Homo sapiens: one gene and its partner. The protein of the gene in region 1 purifies or fractionates together with the protein of each later gene. This does not show direct contact. Each region holds a gene or a part of one and is shown on either strand. Other genes may lie near its edges.

Region 1 (3,652 bases):
CGCCTGGCTAATTTTTGTATTTTTAGTAGAGATGAGGTTTCACCATGTTGGCCAGGCTGGTCTCGAACACCTGACCTCAGGTGATCCGCCTGCCTCGGCCTCCCAAAGTGCTGGGATTACAGGCATGAGCCACCGCGCCTGGCTGTCAGGGATTGCTTGTAAATGTACTGTAAGTAACACGACACAAGAAATGTAAAAATAGAAATGGTAAAGTCTCACTATAAGATTTAATTATTTACGATCTTTAGGAAATAAGTCACAAACTATTTTCTCTATTTCTTTGAAAAATATAAAAATTGGGCAAGGCATAAAAGTAACAATTACTTCCAAAGTTGATACTGATTTGCATTTAAAGCACCAATATTTGAACAGGTAATACTATAAAAACGTGTACTTAGCCTACACATTAGAGATAATACATGAGATGGCTTCTGAGGCACTATTTTTTTAAAAAGGATTTAGATACTTAAATTTGAAGTGCATGTGGGAAAAAAAAATTTTAACAAAGTATTTGCTCATTACCTGTATGTTTTCGAAGATGTTCTTTAAAATGTCCAAAATGGTCAAACTGTTTCTCACAGTACTGACATACATGAATTTTTTTCCCAGTTCTTTGCTTCTTACTGACTCCACCTTCTTCAAGGTGGTAACAATTTAGGTGCTGTTTCCATGCGCTCTCTCGAAGATATCGTTTATTGCATATTTCACACTTGAAACTCTCAGTGGAGTGTGATTTCATGTGCTCCTTAAAATGGTAAAACAATTTAAATGAACGGTTACATTTCTCACAATGGAACAAGTCCTTCACATGTGACAGCTGAAGTTCCACAATTTCAATACCTTCTACCTGTTTGCTCGTGGGGTCAGATGGACAGCCATCTTCTTTAATCTGCCCTTTTCTGTCACCTTGACGGTACTTGCTGGTAATATCTGCCAACAGTGCTAGAGCAGAATCATCAGAGGAACCTGTGCTCTGTATGTACTTTACGGACTGCTTGGCAGAAGCCACTTCCTCTAATGTTTCGATGCCTTCATCTTCCACTTCAATGGTGCCTTCGGCAATCTCTACCTCAATTTCAACAGGTTCTGATTCTGCAGATGGCAATGACTCAGTGATAACATTTGAAGTTTCTGCAATCTTCCTTTTTTTGGCCTCATTTTTTCCTGTGGTATTTTCCTCTAAGGGAGCTGAGTTTTCTTTGTTCCTGAAATACATAATGTAGGGGTTTAAAAAATCTATAAGAAGATCCTACCAGGCTTTTTTGAAGAAACTGATAAAGTGGCAATAAAATTTATATAAACAGTTATAAAACAAGACTGCAGGGCTTATCCTACCTGATTTCAAGACTTAAAGCTACAGTAATTAAGACAATAGTACTGGTGAAAGCATAGACACGAAGATTAATGGAATAAAGTCCATGGAAATAGACCCACGCTTAGTCAACTGATTTTTATGGGGGAAAAAAAGGTGCCAGTCAGGTGCAGTGGCTCATGCCTGTAATCGCAACACTTTGGGAGGCCAAGGCAGGTGGATCACCTGAGGTTGGGAGTTTGAGACCAGCCTGACTAACATGGGGAAATCTCGTCTCTACTAAAAATACAAAATTAGCTGGGCATGGTGGCATGCCTGTAATCCCAGCTACTCGGCAGGCTGAGGCAGGAGAATCACTTGAACCCAGGAGGCGGAGGTTGGGGTGAGCCAAGATCGCACCATTGCACTCCAGCCTGGGCGACAAGAGCGAAACTCTGTCTCAAAAAAAAAAAAAAAAAAAAAAGTTCCAAGCTAATCATTTAACAGTGATGCTAGAACAATTATGTGTATGGGAAAAATAAGCCTCAACCTTTACCTCATATCATACATGAAAAATTAATTCAAAATGGGTCACAGACCTAAATTTAAGAATTAGTAAATTTCTAGAAGAAAACAGGAGAAGACCTTAGTGACATTGGTTAGTGAAAGATTTCTCATTCTCTCACCCAGGCTGGAGTGCAGTGGTGTGATGTTGGCTCACTGTGGCTTCAACCTCTTGGGCTCAAGTGATCCTCCCACCTCAGCCTCTCAAGCAGCTGGGACTATAGATGCGTGCCATCACACTCAGCTAATTTTATTTTTGATAGAATCGAGGTCTCACTATGTCACCCAGGGTGGTCTTGAACTCCTGGGCTCAAGTGATCCTCCTGCCTCGGCCTCCCAGAGTACTAGGATTACAGACATGAGCTACTGTGCCCAGCTGACAGATTTCTTCTTTTTTTGTTTTTTTTTTTGTTTTGTTTTTTTGAGATGGAGTCTCGCTCTGTCACCCAGGCTGGAGTGCAGTGGCGTGATCTTGGCTCACTGTAAGCTCCGCCTCCCAGGTTCACGCCATTCTCCTGCCTCAGCCTCCCAAGCAGCTGGGACTACAGGCGCCCGCCACCACGACCAGCTAATATTTTGTATTTTTAGTAGAGATGGGGTTTCACCGTGTTAGCCAGGATGGTCTCGATTTCCTGACCTTGTGATCTGCCCGCCTTGGCCTCCCCCAAAGTGCTGGGATTACAGGCGTGGGCCACCGCGCCCAGCCTGCCCAGCTGAAAGATTTCTTAAACAGCATAAGAAAGGCAGAAATCATAACAGCAAAAATTGATAAAATAGATTTCATCAAAATTAAAAACTGCCCTCTGAAATACAGTTAATAAAAAAGCAAGCCACAGGCCAGAAGAAAATAGTTGCAAACATTTATCTGTCAAATTTTTTGTTTGGTTTTTTTTTTTTTTTTTTGAGACAGAGTATCTCTCTTGTGGCCCAGGCTGGAGTGCAGTGGCACGATCTTGGCTCACTGCAACCTCTGCCTCCCGGGTTCAAGTGATTCTCCTGCCTCAGCCTCCTGAGTAGCTGGGATTACAGGCTCCTGCCACCATGCCCGCCTAATTTTTGTATTTTTTAGTAGAGACGGGGTCTCACCATGTTGGCCAGGGTGGTCTTGAACTACTGACCTCAGGTGATCTGCCCACCTCGGCCTCCCAAAGTGCTGGAATTACCGGTAAGAGCCACTGTGCCCAGCCTAAAGATCTTATATCTAGAGTGAAGAAAGGATTCTCACAACTCAGTAAACTCAGTAAAAGACGACACCTGTTGGGAGACAATTCTCCTTGAGTCTCTTCAGTTTCCTCACATCTTGTGAACTGAAAACTTTCGGTTTGGATGTTTGCAGTATAGTATAGTAGATGAAAGGGCAGGTTTATTGTCCAATATAATAAAGAGAATGCCCCCACTCTGGAAAAAACGTTAGGCAGGTTTGTTTGTAGCCCACTATAAAAATTTTGAGATTCCTAAGCTGGAGATTCTTCAGCTATAATATAAATCAATCTTATGCATTCACCTGGGCCACTCTATGTCACTCTTGTGGGACTTGAGGGGAAGGGAAAACTGGTATAAAAATGAAATTTATACTGCTTGCTATGTAGAGAGTAATAAGGTCCTTTCTTTCTGACTCAGAAGTCTTCTATCTTCTTCCAGCATCCATGACACTGTGGCAGGAAAACTTGTAGGCTTGCAAGTAGAGTAAAATCTCATAGCTCTTGCCAGTTTTTTGGCATTGAGAATAAGATGCTGGGAAAAAAAAAAAAGGCTTTCTGGAAAAGGAAGGATGAGGCATCACAGAGCAACTGATCG
Region 2 (3,752 bases), on another chromosome or scaffold:
GCCTCCTCCCATAAGCCCACAAGCTATCCAGTACCCAGCCTTTATCACAGCACCTGTAACACATTACTGCCCTTAAATGGGACCTGGGTCTTTTTGGAACAGAAGAGAGTAGAAGGCAAACATCACAGATGTACCAGGGTGCTACACTTTATTGCAGGTGTCTTAGGAGAGAAAAAAAGGTAGAAAAAGGAGAAAGCATGAATAAGAAGAGGGCCAGGACCCTAGTGGTGCCAGAGCCATAGTCACAGGGCCAAACGCCCTATACCACCCAGGCCTGGACAAAGGTAGTGGCTCTGGGGGAGGAATCCTAGGGCCTGGGGCCTCAGACTCAAGTCTGCTGGGCCTGCAAAGGGCTGGGGAGGGGCAGGTTGTCCTTGCTCATTAAGGGAGAGGCTGTGAGGACTGTGGGGAGGGAAGGCCATGGGAGGAGATGGGGCAGTTCTTTGCCCCTGTGTCCCTGATGCTGCCTCCCAAAGGCACAGTCCCATGCTCCCCACTGCCCTCAAAGGAGAAAGCTTAGTGGGAATGGCACCCGGAATATAGAAGAGAACACCTGAATGAGATGGGGTCGGGCAGGGGGCTGCTGAGTGTGTTCACTGCCTTCCACTTCCCTTTCTCCAGCCTCCTCAGTTCCAGATTTTGAGGAAGCTGTCCCAGGAACCTGTGGCCACAGCCATCCCGTCAGCTGTGACTCCCAGGCAGCTCACCCTGTTATCGTGGCCAGAGAGGATGCCTGAGGAAGAGGGAAAGGAGTCAGCCTGTCTCTCCAAGCTGATTTGGAAAGCAGTGTGTGCATGCGTGTAAGTGTATGTGTGGGTGTGTGGGTGTGTGTGTGTATGTGGGTGTGTGGGGGGATATGTGTGCATGTGTATGCATGTGTGGGTGTGTGTACGTGTGTGTGTGCATGTGTGCTTGAGCACATGCATGCAGGGATCCTAGACTCGGTAGACTGGGCTCAACCCCTGAAGAAGGCTAAGAGACTGAAAGAGGATTAGCTGTAGGGCAGGGGGTTCTCTGTCAAGAGCTTTGGTTGGGGGAGGGCTGGGATCAGACAGAGAAAGGCTGGAAGCATCTGTGTACTATGAAAAAACCCGAGGGCACCTTGACAGGTGCTGGAAAAGAGAAGGCAACCGTTCATCCTATTTCTTTGCTTCCAGATGAAGAAACTGAGGCCCATGGAGGAGTGACTTGTGCAAGGACACTCAGAAAGTGAGCAACAGAATTAGGATTTGGATTCTGCCCCTGGCCAGTGTTATTTTCATCAGCACCTGGCCTCTTGATAGAGAAGAAGCCATCCTATCTGACCAACTTCAGGCTAGTCTTAGATGAGCCCTAGGCTGCAGTCAGGGCCCTCGGGCCACTCCAGATCTCCTTGATTCTGCCTTGATTCCATGTTTCCCTGAGGCTGTCTTGCCTCTCAGTGGGTGCCCCTGAAATGCCAGGAACCCAGAACTGACTGGACAGTCATGGTCCACAGATCTCCTAGGGCAGGGAGCAGTCATGGCATTGGGCAGTGGAGAGAGGCTGCTTAGAGCAACACTGAGGGAAAACAGTCCTAGTTGGGAACCAAGGGGTACTGGATTCCAGGGGTGGAGTCACCCAGTGACAAGGGACAGCAGTAAGAGAGTCCGAAATGGGAGCTGATGGGGGGTACAGAATGGGGAGGGAGGGCTGGGGAGGGTCCTTCCAGCTGAGGAAGCAGCAGCCAGGGCTGGCCCTTACCCACACGCTCAGACTTCATGGAGTCCCAGACATTGCAGTTGAAGTCGTCGTAGCCAGCGAATAGTAGGCGGCCACTGAGGGAGAAGGCCACGGACGTGATGCCGCAGATGATGCTCTCGTGGGAGAAGCAGATCAGCTCCTGGTCTGCCCGCAGGTCAAACAAGCGGCAGGAAGCGTCATCCGAGCCCGTGCAGATGGCCTCTCCATTGGGGAAGAACTGAGGGCACGGGTGGCAAGTGGGTCAGGGATCAGACCTGGGCAGCCCACAGCCTCTCCCGCCCTCTGCCTCCCACCTGACAGCTCCAGGGCAAGCCGCTGCTCTCAGCCTCCCTGCCTGTCCCTCCCTTGGTTTGGGGTGAGAAGCAGCCCTGCCAACACATACCACGTGCCAGTGACTTCCCTATGCCCCTCGCCCGCTCTGCACTATACAGCGCTGCAGGCAGGCATCATTTCCACGTCGCAGGCAAGAGCACCAAGGCTTGCCTGCAGTGACCCGGCTAGAAGGGCGGACGGAGGTTGTCCCAGACTCCCAGACTACACAAGTGGGCTGGATCAGGGTGTGTAAGAACAGGGTCCAGTACAAATGCAAGGCCTGGATCTCACGGCGAGCAAATGTCAGATAAGCTCAAACGGAGGGAGAGTCTACAGAAAACTGGTTTGTACTCTTCAAAAACGTCAATGACATAAAAGACAAAGGTGGGAAAACAGTTCCAGTTTAAAGGTGGTGACGAAAAAGATATGGCGAGGAAAGGTAATGCACGTTTCTGGATTGGATCCTGGACAGAAAAAAACATGAGCTATTATGGACATTTTTGAGGCTATTGGTGAAATTTGAATATAGACTGTAGACTGTAGTATTGTGTCAATGTTGAGTTTCCTGATCTTAAGAATCATACAGTGATTATGCTACAGAAGGGCTTTGTTTCGGGAAGTACTTAAGGGGTAAAGAAACATGATGTCTGCAACCTACTTTCAAAAGACACAGAAAGAAAATGTATATCTACATCTAAGTGTGTATGTGTGTGTGTATCTATGGCTATTTCTCTACAGAGAAAAAATGATAAAGCAAACGTGATAAAATGGGCTAGGCGTGGTGGCTCATGCCTGTAATCCCAATATTTTGGGAGACTGAGGCAGGAGGATCGCTTGAGCTCAGAAGTTCCAGCTCAGCCTGGGCAACATAGTGGGAACCCATCTCTACACAAAAATCAAAACATTAGCCAAGCGTGGTCACACGCATCTGTAGTCCCAGCTACTCAGGAGGCTGTGGTGGGAGGATTGGTTGAACCCTGGAGGTTGAGACTGCGGTGAGCTATGATAGCACCACTGCATCCAGACTGGGCAACAGTGTGAGACTCTGTCTCCAAAAAAAGGAAAGAAAGAAAGGGCTAGGGAAGACTGGGCACAGTGGCTCACATCTGTAATCCCAGCACTGCACTCTGGGAAGCTGAGGTGGGAGGATCACCTCAGGTCAAGAGTTCAAGACCAGCCTGGCCAACATGGCAAAACCCCATCTCTACTAAAAATACAAAAATTAGCCGGGCATGGTGGCGCACACCTGTAATCCCAGCTACTCAGGAGGCTGAAGCAGGAGAATTGCTCCAACCCAGGAGGCAGAGGTTGCAGTGAGCCAAGATTGCACCACTGCACTCCAGCCTGGGCGACAAAGTGAGACTCTGTCTCAAAAAAAAAAAAAAAAAAAAAAAAAATACAGTAAGAAAGGGCTAGGGAAGCTATGGGAGGGGCAGAGGATGTGTATTGTATGTGTTGTGGGGAGTGTCGGGGAAGGAGTTGGAGTGAAGCTGGGGTGGGGGGTGCACTCACACAGATGGCGTTGATGTCCGACTCGTGGCCAGTGAAAGTCTGACGGCAGGTCCCCTCTCGCACATCCCAGAGCTTGGCACTGGCATCACAGGCCCCCGAAATGAAGAGATTGAAGTCAGGAGACACAGCCAGGCTCATGCAGTCACCCGTGTGTCCCACAAATACAGTCTTCTGCTGCCCAGTCTCAATGTCCCACAAGGCACTGC

The links. The genes of interacting proteins can lie anywhere in the genome.
Region 2: the proteins of ZNF131 (region 1) and GNB3 purify together in Homo sapiens (affinity purification with mass spectrometry; 2 studies listed by BioGRID and IntAct, with this or other methods). This does not show direct contact.

Annotation. Positions count from the first base shown.
Region 1 is NC_000005.10:43,158,802-43,162,453, reverse strand, and holds part of ZNF131 (zinc finger protein 131), read right to left. Parts: intron 1,206-3,652; coding exon 523-1,205; intron 1-522. UniProt on the Homo sapiens protein: Plays a role during development and organogenesis as well as in the function of the adult central nervous system. May be involved in transcriptional regulation as a repressor of ESR1/ER-alpha signaling.
Region 2 is NC_000012.12:6,843,773-6,847,524, reverse strand, and holds the end of GNB3 (guanine nucleotide-binding protein G(I)/G(S)/G(T) subunit beta-3), read right to left. Parts: intron 3,749-3,752; coding exon 3,547-3,748; intron 2,728-3,546; exon of another isoform or gene 1,940-2,727; coding exon 1,723-1,939; coding exon of another isoform or gene 1,556-1,722; exon of another isoform or gene 738-1,555; coding exon of another isoform or gene 734-737; coding exon 627-733; coding exon of another isoform or gene 622-626; 3' UTR 132-621; downstream 1-131. UniProt on the Homo sapiens protein: Guanine nucleotide-binding proteins (G proteins) are involved as a modulator or transducer in various transmembrane signaling systems.